Linked DNA regions of Homo sapiens. The protein of the gene in region 1 purifies or fractionates together with the protein of each later gene. This does not show direct contact. Each region holds a gene or a part of one and is shown on either strand. Other genes may lie near its edges. The genes, in order: STARD13, KIF13B, WRAP73 and ZBTB21.

Region 1 (3,569 bases):
ATTCAATCACCATGATACCTGTACAGAAGTCATACTTCTGTTCAAATAATTCCTAATCACATACATCACTTAGAACAGAGTCAGGCATTTAGTAAGTACTCTGTGTATGTTTGTTAAAGAAATAAACAGAACACAATTACTATGAAATGGATGAAAAATCATTTCACAAGTGCATGCCACCTACCTGTTTGGCCTGGTCAGAGAGGCCCCTACACCAGAATCCCTCCTGTCTCTGACCCCAGGAGGCTCAGATTCATTAAGAGATGTTACATCTCTTTCCACATCACTGGGTGTCGTCCGACCTTCTGAGACAGAGTTACCTTCAAAATCTAAGGTGATCTGATTAGGAGATGGAAAGGTGGATAAGCCAGGTTCCCCAACCAATGTATCATGAGTTTGCAGTTCAGGCAAGACATCTTTGGACCAGTCATCGACTACCTCTTGGAGCCCATTGACATGCTGCAGAATGTCATCCAAGTGAGGGAAAAGGTCATCTTTCTCCAAGTCCAAAAGATCTCCTGTGCTGGCATACAGATGGGAGCCAGGGACATTGTCATAGATACTGACTCGGCTGGCTCTGTGGCAGGACGCCATGAGCCGGGGCTCCCTGGCACCAGGGACCTGCTCTCTGCCCAGGGAGATGCTACCGGTCCTCCAATTAACCCCATTGCTACTATCTGTGGGAGAGAGGCTTTCAATAGAAAGTGCCTTGGGGAATGTTCCTGGTTTGTGATCCTTGGGAATATGCACCACCAAATTCTCTTGGGAGTGAAATTCATGCATACGGCTTTGGTCCCCTGCATCCGGCAGTGCTGTCCCCGCCAGCACATCTAGGTCCTCCAAGTACATGCCCCCGCGCTTGTTGGCCTCGTGGCACTTGCGTTCCTTCAGGCAGGGCGTGCTCACCCCGCTGCTGCTGTGCTCCGACGGGCTGCTCTCGCCACTCGACTTGCCAGAGCATGGGAGCCCTTTTCTGCAGGCAGGTGGCGGCGAATTCTGGAGATCTCCATTTGGTATTTGGATGCACTGCATAGCCTTAAAGGACTCTGGCTCCTGCTGCAACATGGGCCCACTGATCACCAGGCCACCTGTCCGCCCAGACCCCTTATGCCTCCCGTGGGCTCCCTTCCCTCGGAGTGTTTCCATGCGTTTCAAAAATGATTTGGCCCTAGCCCTCGTGGGCTTCTCATTCTTGGGGTGGAAGGGGTGGTTGAGGACATCTCTGGGGGGCTGTGGGAGGCTGCTGCTGACGAGTGGGGCATCCAGCATGACCGGGTTGTCTGTACAGCACTGGCCCGGCTGGCTGCGACTGTCGCTGCCTCCACTGCTTTCGCTGTGAATGGAGCAGACCTCAGGCTCGCTCAGGTCTGTGAGGACGCTCTCACTGCTGGTCGTGTTCCTCATCCCCGTGCCTCCCGGTGACCCATTTCTGTCTCCTCGAGGGAGCAGCGTGTAGAGGTCGTCCACACGAGACCACCTGCGACTGGTTCTTTGGAAAGTCCATTTGTTGCTGATACAAAGATCTTCCTCATCGGAGTCGTCACCCTGCAGAGCACCAAGGAAAATGCTCATTAGCAGACAGCGTGGCTGAAGCAGGAACTCTGGGTGCTCTGAGGGCAGCCCTGTGTGGTCCTCCACCTCCCTCCCCTCTGTCCTCCCATGCACAGGTGTGAGCTTCTTGGGCACCTCTAAGCTGTCCTTCTACCACTTGCACTGTCTTGTACATACCCTTCCTCCCAGTGGCCAGAGGACCCTTCTCAACTTGCCAAACTTTCTTCCTTCCCATTTTCAAAGAGGTTTTGAATGCCTCCTTCCTTCCTCTCTAAGAAGTTTTCCCTGACTGATTATAAAGAGGGTATAATTACATCAGACTAGACGGTCTAAATATAAAGCACCTGCAGTCTTCTTTTTCACAAAGGAACTCAACTCTGCCATAAAAGGCACTTACTTCTTTCCAGAAACCTCTTCACTGAGCCCCGGGGACCATATTTCCAGCTTGCCCCATCTGAATCTCAGCTTCAGTATATCTCAAAGCTAACACTCCTTATTTTAGTCCCCTGCACTTGATTCTTATCGTGTATTCCCTGGATAAGGTAACAGCAAAATGAACCACTGAATTTCTTTAAGTAGAGATGAGGGAGCCATTCTGGAGATCGCTATTTGTGATCCAATCCGGCTACTCTGCATGAGCGTCTTTTTCTGTGGAATCAACTCCGAGTCAGAATGCCGTTGGCAGGACGCACACCTCTGTGTGGCTGCAGTGGGTCCCCGCGGCTTGGCACTGTCTTACACTTTGGGCCTCACACATTGACTCTAGGTGTCTGGTTTCTGCCTGAATTTGCAGCCCCTGAGAGGGGAGCATCTGCATTCCCTGAGGCCAGAGATGGCCTGGTTTAGCTTTGCATAGCCTTGGGCCCAGCGCAGACCTTGACCTAGAGCATATCATTTCCTTCTGAAATAAACTGAATCATCGGATCCTGCTTCATCCTCACCAAGCACATCACCAAGACCTAATTCTGAACTGATTTTCAAATCTGTTCCCTCATTCGTAATTTCACTCTCATTCTCTTAGTGTAGGCCTTGCCACCTCTCTCTGGATCTGTTACAGTAAAAATGTGGGAGAAACCCTGTCTCCAGCATCTTCCCCATCTAAATAGCTTTCCACAGTGTAGTCCAAATCGAATCATATGATTTTTTTTTTTCAGCTTAGAAGCCTTCTGCTTGAAAGCCTCCACTCTCAGTTGTTACAGGTGAAGTCATCAAGAGCCGGGCCTGCTACAGTGAGCCGTGATGGCACCACTGCACCCCAGCCGCAGCAACAAAGTGAGACACTATCTCAAAAAAATAAAAAAGAGCAAGACCTGTGTTTCTCTGTTTCATTATTCATATAAACATATTTATTCATATGTATAGCCTGTCCAATGCCAAGGACATAATAATTGCTTATTTTTTGTGAATTGAATTAAATTTATTTTACTCTACCTGGGTGTTCAGTTTTAAGACCTGGTTCCAAGTGTCAGTGATACCAGTTAAGAGCTAGGTGACTGTCCACAGTCTACTTACCCTCTCTAAAGTAAGTTTCTGCCACTTATAAGATTGAAGCGGGTCTTGCCTCATAGGTTTGCTGAAGAGAATAAAGAAGGTAGTGCATTCAGCAGTCCCTCACTGAGAGGTATTTGCTTATTTGTATCTTTCAATGTTTGTTCAATTGCCTACTAATCTTTTTATGTATCTAGCGTCCACTTTAACTCCCTTTAACCTTGCAGTGTGTTGTTTTTAAGGAAACCTAAGCAGATGCACAGTTAATCATTGTGGGGATCCTCCTATTCTTGTTTATTCCTTCAAAATCTAGTTTCCGTGTAGGTTTGACTAAATGACAAACTTGAACATTCAAGTTTAAAGTGAAAGCGAGTACAAAGCCAAGGTACAGAAAAGAATTCTATGGCTTAGAAGTCAGGTGCGGTGGCTGATACGGTTTGGTTGTGTTCCCACCAAAATCTAATCTTGAATATTGTAGCTCCCATAATTCCCATGTTTTGATGTGTTATGGGAGGGACCCGGTGGGAGAT
Region 2 (3,569 bases), on another chromosome or scaffold:
ATGCCAGGTTAGGAGAGGAGATGTGATAGTGTGAAAATAATTAAAATAATCCCCCAGCTACTTGGGAGTCTGAAGCAGGGGGATCACTTGAGGCCAGGAGTTCAAGACTAGCCTGAGCAACACAGCAAGAACCTGTCCCTAAAACAAATTTAAAAAAAATAATTAGCCAGGTGTAGTGGCATGCACCTGTAGCCCAGCTTCTCAGGAGGCTGAGATGGAAGGATCATTTGAGCCCATGAGTTACAGGCTGTGATGAGCTATGATTGTGCTACTACACTCCAGCCTGGGCAACAGAGCAAGACCCCATATCTGAAAACAAATAAAATAATCCTATGTGACCAAAAACATAAAATGTTCATACTCAAGAAATGAATCAGCTGGGTGCAGTGGCTCATGCCTGTAATCCTAGCACTTTGGGAGGCTGAGGTGGGAAGACATCTTGAGCCCAGGAGGTCAAGGTCATAGTGAGCTATGATCACACCACTGCACTTCAGCCTGGGCAACAGAATGAGACTCCATCTCTAAACAAATAAACAGTTTAAAAAAGAAACCAATCAACCTCAGAAGACTAAGAAACAGGTATTTAAAAAACTCATAAGGCACCTGGCCAACATGGTGAAACCCTATCTCTACCAAAAATACAAAAATTAGCCAGGCAGGGTGGCAGGCACCTGTAATCCCAGAAACTCAGGAGGCTGAGAAAGGAGAACTGCTTGAATCTGGGAGGCAGAGGCTGCAGTGAGCCAAGATTACGACATTACACTCCAGCCTGGGTGAGAAGAGTGAGACTGTCTCAAAAAAAAAAAAAAAAAAAAAAAAAAACCCGCTTAAGGCAGAACTAGAATAGCCAAAACAATCTTGAAAAAGAAAAACAAAGTCAGAGGACTTGACTCCCAGTTTCGAAACTTAATACAAAGGTAGAGTAATCAAGACAGTGTGGTACTTACATAAGGAAAGACATATATACATTGATGGAATGGAATTGGGAGTCCAGAAACATACTGTCACAGTTATGGTCAATTGATTTTGACAAGGGTACCAAGACAATCTAATGGAGAAAGAACAGTCTTTTCATCAAATGGTTCTAGAACAACTGGATATCCACATGCCAAAGAATGAAGTTGGATCCCTACCTCATACCACATTCAAAACTCCAACTGGATCAAAGATCTAAATGTAAGAGCTAAACCTATCAAACTCTTAGAAGAAAACAAATGAAAATCCACATGATGTTAGATAATGGTTTCTCAGAAATCACAGCAAAATCACAAGCAACTAAAAATAAACTGGACTTCATCAAAATTTAAAACTTTCATGCATCAAAGGACACAAGGGAGTGAAAAAGAAACCCATAAAATCAAAATATTTGCAAATCATCTATTTGATAACAGAATGGTATACAGAATGTATGAAGAAGTCTTACAACTCAGTAATAAAAAGATATAGTTTTTGAAATAAGGGGAAGATGTGAATAGAGATCTCTCTCAAGCTATACAAACGGCCAATATGCACATGAAAAGACGCTCAACATTATCTACCAGAGAAAGGCAAATCTAAACCACAATCAGATACCACCTCATACCCACTAGGATAGCAATACTCATGGAGAGAGACAAGAACAAGTGTTGGTGAGGATGTGGAGAAAGTGGAACCTTCATGCATTTCTATGGGAATGTAAAATGGTTCATATGCTTTGGAAAACAGTTCCTCAAAAGTTAGTTACTATATGACTCAGAAATTCCACTCCTATACATATGCGTATCTGAGAAAAATGAAAACACATGTCTACACAAAAGCCTGTACATAAATGTTCAAAGGAGCATCATTCATAATAGCCAAAAATTGGAAACAAGCCAAATGCCCATCAATTGATGAATGAATACAAAACACAGCATATCTGTGTAACAGAATGTTGTTCAGCTATAAAAAGAATGAAGTATTGATTCATGACAAAACATGGATGAGCCCTGAATACATTATACCAAGTGAAAGAAGTGAGATACAAAAGTCCACATAATATAGGATTCCATGTATTAAATGTCCAGAATAAGCAAATCCATAGAGTCAGGAAGTAGATTAGTGGTTGCCAGGGGCTGGGAAGTGGGAAATGGAGACTGACTGCTAACAGTTACAAGGTTCCTCTGTGGGGTGATGAAAATGTTCTGGAATTGTATACTAATAATGGCTGCACAAGTCTGTGAGTAAACTAAAACCCAGTGAATGGTACACTTTGGGGATGTGACTTATATCTAAAAACCAAGAAGAAAAAACTCGGAATGGATGACCCCAGTACCCTCAATAGATAGAAAATACAGTTAGGGTCCTTCAACCACATTCCTACACATTCACTACTCAGAAGACCCCAGCTCACCCAATTCCTCCTACTTTCAATAACCTCACATTCTACCCCATCAAGAAAATTAAGCTTGAAATTCCTGGGCTTTCCCATTATATAATTATTCTCTTCCTCCCATATTTCAAAAACTTCTATCTATTGGCTCTATCTATACAAGGTTCAAATATCTCCCCAAAACTTTTTTTTTTAAAAAAAGGTACCTACCCCTCCAGGTACCACTCTGAACCCTCCCCTTCTACCTGGAGTTTCTCAGAGGAATGTTCTTGAGACTCGCTGCCTCCATACTGGCACGCCCACTCACTCCTCAGCCCACTGCCAATGCCCAATACCAATTAATTCGTTTCAGTGAAATTATCCTGAAAATGAACACTGACCATCATAATGCCAAATCCACTGAACACAATTCTGTGTTAATCACGCGGCCATTCCTGTGACATGTGATTGCTTTCACCTTTCACTCTTTTGACACATTTTTCCTCCCTAGGCATCCACAACATTGCTTTCACCTGATTCTCCTGAGGTTGCTCTTCTTGGCCTCTGTGACCGCCTCTGTCACAGACACACCTGAGGTGCTCTATCTTCTACCTACAGTAATGACTCCGAAATCTACACCTACGTCCAGTCCCTTCGTTTCAGACTCATATTCACAATGGCCTTCTGGATCCATCCACCTGGCTGCACTTCAGACACCTAAAACTCAATTGTGCTGAGTTGCTTCCAGGCACACACTGCATCTTATTCATAGTTGCAGGCAGGGTACACAGCACATAAGCACTGACGACACACTGTTGACTGAGACTAGAACTCATCATTTCCCACACCTCCACCCTAAAACCTGCTTCTCCTGTGCTTCTGATTCAGTTAATGACACCAGCATTCACCTAGTCATCTAAATCAGAGACTTTGCAGCGGATTCCCCAAGTTCAGTGATCCTCAGATGCCGACACAAACCCACTGTATGTGCAGCACCCATCTGGATTCCTCCACGTCACCCCGGTGGAACTTGGAGCCAAGGGGCCTGCTTGTGCTGTCTTCTGTGCTGTTCTCAAATTCCACCCCCATTTCTTTAATTCATGATTGGCTGCCATCAGTGCACTAGGTACATATATTCTTCCAATGAACTCACATGTGCATCTTATTATCAACAAGACTGGGAGCTCCTTTGATGGAAGATCAAGACTTATGCTTCCAGTTTATCCTGCACATCTTTGAA
Region 3 (3,569 bases), on another chromosome or scaffold:
CCACTAACCCCCGAAATGGGGTCGCGCCTTCGGAAGGGGACCCAGCGGCCCCGCTGAGCCCCGGACATGGGGTCGCGCCTTCGGAAGGGGACCCAGCGGCCCCGCTGAGCCCCGGACATGGGGTCGCGCCTTCGGAAGGGGACCCAGCGGCCCCGCTGAGCCCCGGACATGGGGTCGCGCCTTCGGAAGGGGACCCAGCGGCCCCGCTGAGCCCCGGACATGGGGTCGCGCCTTCGGAAGGGGACCCAGCGGCCCCGCTGAGCCCCGGACATGGGGTCGCGCCTTCGGAAGGGGACCCAGCGGCCCCGCTGAGCCCCGGACATGGGGTCGCGCCTTCGGAAGGGGACCCAGCGGCCCCGCTGAGCCCCGGACATGGGGTCGCGCCTTCGGAAGGGGACCCAGCGGCCCCGCTGAGCCCCGGACATGGGGTCGCGCCTTCGGAAGGGGACCCAGCGGCCCCGCTGAGCCCCGGACATGGGGTCGCGCCTTCGGAAGGGGACCCAGCGGCCCCGCTGAGCCCCGGACATGGGGTCGCGCCTTCGGAAGGGGACCCAGCGGCCCCGCTGAGCCCCGGACATGGGGTCGCGCCTTCGGAAGGGGACCCAGCGGCCCCGCTGAGCCCCGGACATGGGGTCGCGCCTTCGGAAGGGGACCCAGCGGCCCCGCTGAGCCCCGGACATGGGGTCGCGCCTTCGGAAGGGGACCCAGCGGCCCCGCTGAGCCCCGGACATGGGGTCGCGCCTTCGGAAGGGGACCCAGCGGCCCCGCTGAGCCCCGGACATGGGGTCGCGCCTTCGGAAGGGGATCCAGTGGCCCCGCTGAGCCCCGGACATGGGGTCGCGCCTTCAGAAGGGGACCTAGTGGCCCCGCTAATCCTCGAACGGGTCTGGTCCTTGCTCTTGTGAATGAGACTGATGGACGGTGCCCGCAGCTCACTTCCTGGCCAGCACGTCTGGAATTCCGGTTTTGTTTCCTCACTTGCAACCATTAAAGTTCGCATGCAAAGCTGGAGACACATTTTGACATCTTGGTCAAGATGCCCCATGCCTTGAGGTTACCGGTCCTCATCCACCACCTGGTCTTAACGTTTCCTCTAAGGCCACCAGCAAAGTGGTCATGACCTTAGTCTTAGGTTGAACAATGTCATCTAAATGTACTCTATGAAAAATCAGTTTGTTCTGTAGCAAAGGTGTTTTCAATATTGGTGTGTGTGACATGGGATGCTCAACAAAACCAGGCTTTTATCCATCTTTTAAGGTTTCTAAACTCTATAGATGGTAGTTTTCCTTCTGGGCCATTTAATAAGATAATACAACAAGGCTGACCCCATGACATGAGCCCTTCTCAAGGGCAGATTTGGGCCCAAAGCATTACAGGCCTGAAGACTGTTAGACACGGCTGCGTGAAAAGCTCAAATTATCCTCTCTGAAACACTCAGGCCGAAAGTGCCTTCCAATGTCAATACATAGTGCGGAGACATTGGTGGGCCTTTGTTTCCTGTCTTATTCTCTGACAGCCCATAATAGCAGACATTAGATTTGGAGTATTTTTTAAAATCGAAACTGAAAAATATGTAAAGCCATCCAGCCATCTGAAGCAGTTGATTCAGCAACCCTCATGGCTGGATAAAACTTTATCCCAGCCGATGCCAGCTTGAAAAAAGCCGAATGAAACCCTACAGAGCATCTGCAGCCACACGCTGGGAGAAATCCTCCCAGGTGCCATCATCTACGTGGTGTGCGCGGCGCAGCGGGACGGGAGGGCTGCAGTGTGGTGTGAGCGGCGCAGCGGGATGGGCGGGTTGCCCCGTGGTGTGCGTGGCGCAGCGGGACGGGCGGGTTGCCCCGTGGTGTGCGCGGCGCAGCGGGACGGGCGGGTTGCCCCGTGGTGTGCGCCGTGCAGCGGGACGGGCGGGTTGCCCCGTGGTGTGCGCGGCGCAGCGGGATGGGCGGGTTGCCCCGTGGTGTGCGCGGCGCAGCGGGATGGGCGGGTTACCGAGGTGCAGCCAGCAGCCCAGACAGCTATGAGCACTCAGTGGACTTGGGCCCAAACACTGGGATCCAACTCCATCAGAAAAGCACATTATTAAAGGAATTCGTCCATTTTTCTGTATCTTAAAAAGACACTGCGGACACCAAAGACCTGGTATCTAAACACTTGACATATGCCTAATTTTAACTTAAAATGCAGTCTCCTATCCCAGATCCCTCTGATTTATTCTCGGATGTCAACATTCCCCTCCGCGCTGAGCTCAGCACGGAGGCTGTTGTGCGGTACCTACAGCAGGTGAATGGGCGGCTGCCGACCGCCCCGAGCCACGCCCCCAGGCCAGGCTCCTGAAGGAAAGGTGCGAGCCGGCTCATATCACAGCGCATTTTCTATCGTTGAATTAAAGGGAGTGCCGAAATCCTAAAAAATCTAAATTAAGATTTTTAAAATGTTTTTTCTTCAAAACTGGACAAAAGATCAGACAATAATACTTAGTGGCTTATAATGCTCTGACCTAAAATATACACACCACTATATACGCTCCCCGGCTCCCTCCAACCCCGCCAATCTACCAGCCACTCGGGAGCCACCTCAGTCATCAGACCCAGGGCAGCAGACAGTGCCTGTGTTCACGACACCCTTATCTGACTCAGTAGCAGCCCAAAGCACGGGCGGTGGGGCTCGCAATCTGGATACGCCAAAGAGAAGCCACAAAGTGCTTCCTTTAAATGACGAGCTGAAAGTTCTTGACGCAACAAGGAAAGAAAAAATCCTATGCTGAGGTTGTTGCTCAGATCTTCAGTAAGACCAAATCTTCTATCCATGCAATTATAAACAGTATATTGTTATCCTTGTTCTATACTATGATTGTTGCTAATCTCTTACTGTATCTAATTTATAAATTAAATGTATCACAGGTATGCTGTATAGGAAAAAACACAGGAAATACAGGGTTTGGTACAATCTGAATCCCCTGGTGGTCTTAGAATGCATCCCCTGAGGATAAGGGGAGACTAGCATACTCCAAACACACCCCCTCTCGCACTCCCCAGCTGTTTCGAGAGCAGAGGACAGGATCACATGGCCAGTAAGGTGTCTTGGGGCTGACACTTACATGGAATTCCGTGGTGTTGAGAATGTGGCGCCCGTCCGGGCTCCAGCACGAGGCCACCAGCCCGGCTGAGCCCTCGTCTATTTTGCAGTGCCATTCGGGCTGCTCTAAAGACCAGACCTGGATTGAGAGAAGAAAGAAACACACAAGTGCAAACTCATCAGCACCGAGAGACAGCGAGGACAGCTCGCTTAAACGCAGCGGAGACCCGACCGCACAGGGTGTCTTCAAACTCATCAGCAGTCTATAGCGAGGCCTCGCCGAGAGACAACTCCCTTAAAACCAGCAGAGACCCGATCACACAGGGTGTCTTTTAGAACCTTTCATGATGAAGGGCTGGTGCTGGATTCCAGTGTAAAAGTAAGCCACGCTTCTTGGTGATTTCATTTCGTTGTTGTTTTAAAACTGTTTATTCACATTGTCATTCCTAAGACCTCATTTAGTTAAGCTTTGGACACAGAAGAAAACA
Region 4 (3,569 bases), on another chromosome or scaffold:
TGCAGAGGCTTTGAAGGCAACACTGCATTTCTTTTCACCAAACTGATTCTATTAGGATCATCCAAAGATCCAGAATGCTCAAGAGACTTTGCATATACCACAGAACTATCTTTCGGCCAACTCTTTTCAGTTAATGACAAATTATGAAGTGGTTCTATTGGTTTTGGGACATGTGGCTTATTGGTATTGGCCTTGACTGCAATGCTAGGAGAGGGCCGGGAAGTATGGCTTACATCGGGTTGATTTTGACTAACAGTTTTTCCTTGCGCTTCGTTTCTACTTTGACAAACAATGACACTTCTCTTTTGAGAACTGTTTTCATCATCTTCTACAAACACTTTTTTTCTATTAGGACACGTTGGAAAGGGGGCTTGAGGTGTTTTAGAAACGATGTTAGTCAGAAAGGAAATCCCAAGACTATAGCCAAGTTCTTGCACAGCAGCAAGGCTGCTCTTCTCAACAAATAGAGAGGAAGAATAAATGTAGTTTAAAACATTATCAAAAGCATCTGGCTCACAGAAGTCAAGCTGAAATACAGTTTGTGACTCATTTTCCTTATTTGTGAATAAACTCTGAAAGTATTCGCTGCTGGCAGCCAAGACGTTTTTATGAGCTCGGAACTTTTGGTCTCCAACAATCAGCAGCACATCACACAGCTGTCCTTTGAGACGCTCCTCATTCAGGGCACTTAGGAGAGAAATGGCGTGTGCAGGGTTGATGTAATGCAGTAATCCCTCCATGGCTTGAGTTTATCTAAAAGACAAAATGTAAAATTACTACAGATATTGCAGTGAAAAGTTCCCCTGGCTCCTCAAGAGCAGGGAACATCAGCTGTCTTTGCATAGGTACCAATATTTAGCAGACCGTAGGCTAACAGAAGCTCTATGAATGAACAATCTTATTTAAATAATGGTGAAAATGTAAAATAAGTCTCGTGGTTTAAGTAGGTCCTCATTAAAATAGAAGAATTGCAGGAACTATAATATAGGCATTTGTATATCATCAAAAAGGCTGCCAGAACTTGGCAGGTAGATATGGAAGCAATATTTGAAAATAAAGGTTTATTATTTAGGGTCCTTATCCATTTGATGCTTGGCACTATTCCTTACCAATTCAGAAAACAAGTACGAATTATCAAACCCCTGAAGTCTATAATTCTGAAAGAAAATCAGCTTTATTACTACATATACTTAAACATAATGTGAACTGTTAACAATTGGTTGCAAAGCAGGTCTTGTGAGACCCTTGTTTTTATTTTGAGACAGGGTATCTCTCTGTCACCCAGGCTGGAGTGCAGTGGCACCATGATGGCTCACTGCAGCCTCAATCTCCTGGGCTCAAGCAATCCTCCCACTCAGCCTCCTGAGTAGCTGGGACCACAAGCACATGCCACCTTGCCAGGTGATGCGGTTTGGTGGTGTCCCCACCCAAATCTCCTCTTGAATTGTAACTCCCACAATTCCCACGTCGTGGGAGGGACCCAGTGGGAGGTAACTGAATCATGGGGGTGGGTCTTTCTCGTTCTCTTCTCATGATAGTAAGCCTCATGAGATCTGATGATTTTATAAAGAGGAGTTCCCCTACACAAGTTCTCTCTTCCCTGCTGCCATGTGAGATGTGACTTGCTCCTCCTTGCCTTCCACCACGATTAAAAGGCCTCCCCAACCACGTGGAACTGTGAGTCCACTGAACCGCTTTTTCTTGTAAGTTACCCAGTCTTGGGTATGTCTTTATTAGAAGTGTGAAAATGGACTAATACAGTAAATTGATACCAGTAGAGTGGGGCACTGCTGAAAAGATACCCGAAAATGTGGAAGCGACTTTGGAACTGGGTAACAGGCAGAGGCTGGAACAGTTTAGAGGACTCAGAAGAAGACAGGAAAATGTGGGAAACTTTGGAACTCCCTAGAGACTTGCTGAATGGCTTTGACCATAATGCCAATAATGATACAGACAATGAAATCCAGGCTGAGGTAGTCTCAGATGGAGATGAGGAACTTGTTGGGAACTGAAGCAAAGGTGACTCGTTATGTTTTAGCAAAGAGACTGGTGGCATGTTGCCCCTGCCCTAGAGATCTATGGAACTTTCAACTTGAGAGAGATGATTTAGGGTATCTGGCAGAAGGAATTTCTAGGCAGCAAAGCATTCAAGAGGTTCTCAGGTGCTGTTAGAGGCATTAAGTTTTATAAGGGAAGTAGAGAATAAAAGCTTGGAGAAGTTGCTGCCTGACAGTGCGATAGAAAAGAAAATCCCATTTTCTGAGAAGAAATTCAAACTGGCTGCAGGAATTTGCCTAAGTAAGGAGGAGCCGAATGTTAGTCACCCAGACAATGGGGAAAATGTCTCCAGGACATGTCAGACCTTTGCAGCAGCCCCTTCCATCACAGGCCCAGAGGTCTAGGAGGAAAAAATGGTTTTGTGGGCCAGGCCCAGGGCCCCCTTTCTGTGTGCAGCCTAGGAACTTGGTGCCCTGTGTCCCAGGTGCTCTAGCCATGGCTGAAAGGGGCCAAGGTACAGCTTGGGCCATGGCTTCAGATGGTGCAAGCTCCAAGCCTTGGCGGCTTCCATGTGGTGTTAAGCCTGCAGGTGTGCAGAAGTAAAGAACTGAGGTTTGGGAACCTCCGCCTAGATTTCAGAGGATGTATGAGAACACCTGTATATCCAGGAAGAAGTCTGCTGCAGGGCTGTGTCCCCTCCATGAGGGGCAGGGCCCCATGGAGAAACTTCTGCTAGGGCAATGCAGAAGGGAAATGTGGGGTTGAAGCCCCCACATAGAGTCCCCACTGGGGCACTGCCTAGTGGAGATGTGAGAAGAGGGCTACCATCTTCCAGACTCCAGAATGGTAGATACGTCGACAGCTGGCACTGCGTGCCTGCAAAACTCACAGACACTCAATGCCAGCCCATAAAAGCAGCCAGGAGTGGGGGCTATACCCTGCAAAGCCACAGGGGCAGAGCTGCCTAAGACCATGGGAGCCCACCTCTTATATCAGCTTGACCTGGATGTGAGACATGGAGTCAAGGGAGATCATTTTGGAGCTTTGAGATTTGACTGTCCTGCTGAATTCTGGACTTGCACCGGGGCCTGTAAGCCTCTGTTTTGGCCAATTTCTCCCATTTGGAACGGCTGTAGTTACCCAATGCCTGTACCCCCACTGTATCTGGGAAGTAACTAACTTGTTTTTGACTTTGCAGGCTCATAGGCGGAAGGGATTTGCTTTGTCTCAGAAGAGACTTTGGTCTGTGGACTTTTGAGTTAATGCTGAAATTAGTTAAGACTTTGGGGGACTGTTGGGAACGCATGATTGGTTTTGAAATGTGAAGACATGAGATTTGGGAGGGGCCCAGGGTGGAATGATACAGTTTGGCTGTGTCCCCAGCAAAATCTCATTTTGAATTGTAGCTCTCACAATTCCCCACATCTGGGAGGCACCCAGTGGGAAGTAACTGGATCATGGGGGCAGGTCTTTCTTATGCTCTTCTTGTGATAGTGAATAAATCTCAGGAGAGCTGATGGTTTCATAACGAGGAGTTCCCCTGCACAAGTTCTCTCTTCCCTGCCACCATG

Evidence for each region.
Region 2: the proteins of STARD13 (region 1) and KIF13B purify together in Homo sapiens (affinity purification with mass spectrometry, with the first as the bait; one large-scale study listed by BioGRID). This does not show direct contact.
Region 3: the proteins of STARD13 (region 1) and WRAP73 purify together in Homo sapiens (co-immunoprecipitation; one large-scale study listed by IntAct). This does not show direct contact.
Region 4: the proteins of STARD13 (region 1) and ZBTB21 purify together in Homo sapiens (affinity purification with mass spectrometry, with the first as the bait; one large-scale study listed by BioGRID). This does not show direct contact.

Annotation. Positions count from the first base shown.
Region 1 is NC_000013.11:33,128,745-33,132,313, forward strand, and holds part of STARD13 (stAR-related lipid transfer protein 13), read right to left. Parts: intron 1,546-3,569; coding exon 185-1,545; intron 1-184. UniProt on the Homo sapiens protein: GTPase-activating protein for RhoA, and perhaps for Cdc42. May be involved in regulation of cytoskeletal reorganization, cell proliferation and cell motility. Acts a tumor suppressor in hepatocellular carcinoma cells.
Region 2 is NC_000008.11:29,253,034-29,256,602, forward strand, and holds part of KIF13B (kinesin-like protein KIF13B), read right to left. Parts: intron 1-3,569. UniProt on the Homo sapiens protein: Involved in reorganization of the cortical cytoskeleton. Regulates axon formation by promoting the formation of extra axons. May be functionally important for the intracellular trafficking of MAGUKs and associated protein complexes.
Region 3 is NC_000001.11:3,643,563-3,647,131, forward strand, and holds part of WRAP73 (WD repeat-containing protein WRAP73), read right to left. Parts: intron 3,221-3,569; coding exon 3,104-3,220; intron 1-3,103.
Region 4 is NC_000021.9:41,993,356-41,996,924, forward strand, and holds part of ZBTB21 (zinc finger and BTB domain-containing protein 21), read right to left. Parts: intron 754-3,569; 5' UTR 741-753; coding exon 1-740. UniProt on the Homo sapiens protein: Acts as a transcription repressor.